2 separate regions of the Homo sapiens genome follow, and region 1 is linked to region 2. The links come from fine-mapping of genetic effects on plasma protein levels. A gene starts in region 2. The other region holds a variant in brackets. All regions are shown on one strand. Distances are between the middles of the regions.

Region 1 (2,918 bases), 170 kb before region 2:
TGGGCCAATCACTCAATCTCTGTACAGAAGGAGGTGAACCACCTTGCCCACTGCCCCACAGCATTGCTGAGAGGTCCAAATGAGATCACATACAGGAAAAGCCGTGAAAACAGTAAAGCATTCTATAAACACCATGTGCTATTGATAAAAGGACAGAAGACTAAATCATACTCCTTAGGAGCACAACACTTCAGTCATTCTGGCTTCAATGGAAAGACCACACCCCCTCTCGTCCCCTGACTTAATGCTTTCAATAAACAGCACAGGATTTTCTCGAGCGATCTTTTAAAGATGAAGGGCTCGGGTATGCATGCTGGTCCTTGAACTGGTCTTTGCAGGGAGCTTTAGTGTCTTACAATATTTAATACAGACATCCTGCCTGAGCTATTTATCCTGACTTGGGAAAGTAACCATTTCACTGTTACTATTAATTCTGTTCCAAAAAGAAAAAAAAGACTATTGTAATTTTACACCCTTAATCTATGCAACACAGGAATGAGAAAGAAAAAAAAAAACCCAACACGGTACTTTCTCATGAGTGAGGCACATTATATATAGTAATTCGCATTTTATTATTTTATCATTATGAATAGTAAAGTCCACAGTTCAGTCCTCAGACAACATTCAGGTAAATGTTTTACATATGAGACACCTGCCTGTAATGTGATGACATGAGATATATATATGGATATATATATATATGGATATATATTTTGAACCACTGTGATTTACTAGTCTATTAAAATGCCATTACACATTTAAAAACTGAACAATTACAACAATGCAATCTTCAAGCAATTAAAAACAAAGAATTGTTGAGCCAACATGGGAGATCTGCTGAGTAATCTGGCCTTTCAAGTAATGTCTAGTGGAAACCCTGTTTTCTCCTTCCATCTGAAGATCATCAAAAATAAAAAACAAACCTACACAAAAAACCACCTGCTCTGAGTGAAAGTCAGGATTCAGCCCACATGACTCAGGGACACACTCCCCAGCGGTTGCTGGAGGCACCATCACTCCAACATGTGCAGGAGCAGCGAGGGGTCCACCTCCACAGCCCGCAGCCCGTTGTGCAGGCTCTGGAAGGTGGCCTGCTTCCCGAAGCGCTGCCGCCAACGGATGAAGGCCTCCACCACCTGCGACTGCACGTTGTGGGGGTGGTTGGCCTTACAGCGGTAGATATCCGTCTGGGACAGTCCCAGAGACA[G/A]CACCATGGGCTCCCACTCAGGGCCCAGCCTCTGGGCCAGCTGGTTAATCTGCCGGTCTGATGGGGAGCTGTTGAGGATGTGCGAGGGGATCCCAGTCAATCTGTCACCTGAGGAGGAAAAAGACACCCCGGTGAAATGAGCAAGGCAACAAACACATCATTTGGGGGCAGAAATGAGAATCGTGGGGAGAAGAAGGCAATGCTTCCAAATGGCAGAGCCAATTGGCTCTTGTCTTCTTCCTGGGGGCTGCTCTGTACAACGCCATGATTCAGGGCTTCAATGCTGTTAAGTATCTGTGAAAATGTTTTTACAGAAACTTTTTTTTTTTTTTTTTTTGAGACGGTGTTTCACTCTGTCACCCAGGCTGGAGAGCAATGGCATGATGTTGGCTCACTACAAACTCCACCTCCTGGGTTGAAGTGATTCTCCTGTTTCAGCCTCCCAAGTAGCTGGGATTACAGGCAACTGCCACCATGCCCAGCTAATTTTTGTATTTTTAGCAGAGACAGGGTTTCACCATGTTGGCCAGGCTGGTCTTGAACTCCTGACCTCAGGTGATCCACCTGCCTTGGCCTCCCAAAGTGCTAGGATTACAGGCGTGAGCCACAGCACCCTGCCTGTTACAGAAACTTTGAAAGCAACAAAATAAAAATAACTAGAAATCCCACCAGAAAAACTCATTGATAATAACTAGTCTATTTTCTTTGATATATAAAACACACATGAAGGGTTACCTCGTACATGCTGCTTTGTAACAGGCTTTTTTCACTTCTATCCCTTTTACTCAAGGCCAGGCAAGGCATTCTGGGGGAATTCAAGAATGGCTGCACAGACCCCAGCTCCCTCTGGCACTGTCTGTGGCCTTAGTGATGGGGCCTGTTCCAAGGCTGGGAATGCCCCTCCCTGCAGGAAAGGCACGTGCTAGAGGACAAAGGCTAAACCAAACAGCTACCCTCGCCGATGAGGTTGAACTTGAAATATTACCGAGAAAACGTGTAGCTGCTAACAGAAGCCAGAGCCAAGAGGGCTGCTGAGAACAAAATAAACCTAAGAGGCCATAGGGTAGCAGGAAGGGAAGAGAGCGGGGTTTGTTCATAGCAGAGGCCACAAGAGTGGAGTTACCGTTCTGGCAGAGCCCAGAAGAGGAACAGGAAGTATGAGACGGGGCAACGAGGAAATCTGACCTTACACTTCCTGAACTAGATTCTTATTTGCCTGAGGCCAGTCTGCTAAGAAGCATGACATTGAGTGAATGGTTATAAATGTGCCCAGCAAAACCAGTGAGCAGTGCCTTTGGTTATACAGAGGAGCTCCTAACTTCATTAGGGAAGGCCTTCCAGGGGAAGGAGGCTAAAGCTAAGCCCTGAACACTAGGAGGAGGAGCTGGGTGATGAAGGAGGAACAGGGCGTGGCGCATCTCGAGAAGAGAGAATTGCATGTGCAAAGGCCCAGAGGCAGGAGAATCGCAATGGAGGAAGTGAAAGGCACTCACAGCAGCCAAGTGCAGAGATTGAGACGGACTCCAAACATCCAAAGTCATTTGCTAGGTTCAGACATTTGTTTGACAGCACAGTACACTATACTCCCATCCATCAGCATCACAGGGATTCAGGTCAGTCTACTTCATGCTCATCAGTCCACTATTGTGTTTTGATTTATGATTCAATAAGAAGGCAAAGGCACCTTATTACAAGAGCTGATGTTTTCCAC
Region 2 (2,918 bases):
GGCGAAGTGAGCGGAGTACTTGTTTGTCTCTGGCCTCCATTTCTCCCTGGAAAGAGCCAAAATCACAGCTCAAATTACAGACATGTTGATGTGGCCCTAAAGACAGTGTCACTGCAATGTAAGTTCCTTCAGGTCAAGCACATCTTTAAACCATAGCAGACTGCCAGGTCATGGTATTTAATTCACTGATTAAGCCAAGCCAGGTTAATTTTGAATGTTTCCTAACATAATGAACAACAATGAAGATGAATCATCTTTTCTGTTTCTGCTTTTCACACAATGGGGTCCCAGCTCAATTCCTCGTTCAATAAAGAAATTTGGAAAAAGAAAAAAAAAAAGTGGGTCAGAGACCCTTCTGAACAAGCAATTTTTATCTGAAGATTACAGAGCAGCACTAATTTTAACACGCTGGAGAAGAAATGGTGGTTTTATTTTCACATTGCCCTCATCAGACCTGCACCACCACCACCAAGGCAGAAACTGCCAAGGTGGACGCAGGTCCCCTTTTTTTGATCACAAGTATTTGCAAAACCTGATCAGTAATAGGAGTGCAGGACAGAAATCAGCAGGTTCAGAATTTAAGGCTCTTTTCGCTAAAAGTCCTCTACACGATCACCTTTAAGAAAATTGTTGTTTGTGCCCAGTCTACAATAAACTTTACACAATATACAGTCACAGACTCCATTCCTTCCCACTAAGAATTCCGAATCTCCAGCACAACACTGTCGTGGCCGCACATGCATGGGACATTTTATGGGATTTTTTTCTTTCAAAAAAAGCACACACCCCAGCACTGGTCAGTAGCCAGGCACGATTTGAAGGTGCAGTTCCACCACCCCTGCACCAGTGTGCTGTGGCTTGGTTGTGTGTAAGGCAGTGAAGGTTAAGTGACCGGGAAGGCAGGCAGGGATGACAGATGGGGCTTCAGACACACCCGGGCAGTACGACCACGGCTAGGCGACACCCGATCCCACACTCCCCCTCGCAACCCTGTAAAGTTCAGGAGGTGACAGGTGAGGAGGGGAGGTGTTCACGTTTGGCCGTGAGCGCCCATTGGGAACTATTTAAAAAGGCTCTGCTTCGGCCGCTGAAACCCTTGTATCAAACAGGAAGACTACGGGCGGTTTCTGCGGCAACTTGACCCGCTAAAGAGGGAGTGCTGGGAATGAACTAAAGAGCGGACCAAGGGGAGAGCGGGCCTCCGGCACTGCCGCAGCCACCCAGCCTTGGCCCGGATCGGAAATGCGGAGCAAGTTAGCGGGGCGGGGAAGCCCCCGCAGGGCCCAGGTCGCAGACGCTACAATGCAGGACTTTCAAAGAAAGATGGATTCCTGTTACTTACGTCTGCAACCACGTATCTTTGGGGCGGGGGAGAAAAACTGCAACCGGAATCCTGACTGTTAGGGAACCTGCCCCATAAGCACCATCTTTGTTAATGGCGAAAACCCTAAACAGGAAGTGTTGACACCATCTTTGTTGAGGGCAAGTACAGGAAGTGCTGTCGCCATTTTTATTGAGCGTTCAAGGGTCGGATCGAAGCTCTTCCCGCCATGCTTACTGTGGGTAAACAATTCAATAGCGGGGAGATGGACAACCGTAGTGTCACTTAAAGGGTATCTAAGTAATGGAGTAATTGAATCATTGCATTTTAACACAGTAACTCCATCAGGGCCTCGCACACAATTGACCTAACAGAGAGGCAGGTCAAAAGCCACCCTAGTAGAGAAGCCTTCTCTGACCTATCTGATTAAAACGGCAAGACAGCTGCGCTCATTTCCTGCACTCCCCATTAACCAGCTTTATTTTTTACGCATCACCATCTTATTAAAACTTTTCACTTATTCATTTGTTTATCCTTCTGCTTCCCTCCATTAAAATGCAAGGTCATTTATTTATATCAAGGGTTCCTGCCCGCAAAGAGTTTACAAATCTGTCAGTCAGGATTTCATTGCAGCACTCAGCTAGTTACTCCTAGTCAGAAAGGGATTCGTTAGGGGGAATTGGGGACATTCGAAATCATTGGAAAGGCTGGAGAAGGGCTGAGCTGAACATCCATGGATGACTACCTAGATAAGATTGCTGATTGTGGCTGCTGCCCACAATCAGGAAGATGGCGTCAGGAAGTTGCCATGCCTGGTCCCCAACCTCCTCTCAACACCGACAGAACAATTAACAGGACACTGGAACAGTGCTGCAAAAAACGGTGGTCTCCACGGCTGCATTTGCCAGCAGCAAGAAAACAGCACCTGCAAATCTTGCTTTGCTGCGTGCCATTGGTGAGACCAATCTGACATGCAGAATATTAGCAGCAAGGATGTCTAGAGCATGTAGTTGGTAGCTTTCCAGCTTGTGAAACACAAAAAGGTATAGTAAATGAGGGAAGGCCTGACACTTAAAGCCAATCTACTGCATCCACCACATTTTCAATGTGGAAAGCAAGAAAAAATGCATGACCCAAATACAGAGAAACACAGCAATGCCAAATTGGGTGTCCTTCCTCACATTCCTTTGTGAAGCGAGGCAGGCGATCAATAAATACATTCATTGATTCATTTTTAAATCAATTGGATGATACATACAGAAAGTCATATGCTTACTAAAAATCAGTTGACAGTACAGGGGGAAAAAACTCCTAAAATATTATTTCTGCAAAGGTTTTCACAGCCAAACCCTTTGGTGGAAAATGAAAATATCTTTGTTAAGCAAATCAATGGAGAACAGTTCTGAACCTCCCTCCTCAAAACCTTCTAAAAATTGTATTCAATTTACAGCATTACTATGCCAGTTACCATTTTACTACACCGTTAATGACAGTATTTTTACCTATGTGGCAAGTATTATTATTATTACAGTCATGCATTGCATAACAATATTTGGGTCAATGACAGACTGCATATATGATGGTGGTCAGAGCAATA

Alleles and levels. Alleles are on the strand shown, and positions count from the first base shown. The strength of an association depends on the size of the effect and on how common the allele is.
In carriers of allele G in region 1, the plasma level of the protein whose gene starts at base 1,440 in region 2 tends to be higher than with A alone (weak association).

Evidence for each region. PIP is the chance, under the fine-mapping model, that this variant and not a neighbour inherited with it causes the effect. Protein levels are from antibody-based Olink assays in UK Biobank. Linkage for the fine-mapping came from a reference panel and not from the study's own genotypes, which makes the PIPs less certain.
Region 1: its variant is fine-mapped to the plasma level of the CRADD protein (UK Biobank, PIP above 0.99). The variant lies in the coding sequence of CRADD. If it changes the protein, the assay may bind it differently, which can mimic a change of level.

Annotation. Positions count from the first base shown.
Region 1 is chr12:93,848,367-93,851,284 of GRCh38, reverse strand. It overlaps CRADD (CARD and death domain containing adaptor protein), which reads right to left. Exons shown (of 3, transcript NM_003805.5): 3 at 529-1,315. The coding sequence ends at 1,014. Among named protein-coding and RNA genes, the nearest start is that of CRADD-AS1, 110 kb to the right of the region's middle. RefSeq lists an enhancer at 2,226-2,325. The variant G/A (reference allele first, on the strand shown) is at 1,208.
Region 2 is chr12:93,675,897-93,678,814 of GRCh38, reverse strand. It overlaps CRADD (CARD and death domain containing adaptor protein), which reads right to left and starts at 1,440. Exons shown (of 3, transcript NM_003805.5): 1 at 1,343-1,440; 2 at 1-46. The coding sequence starts at 40. RefSeq lists enhancers at 569-1,383, 1,356-1,595, 1,384-2,199.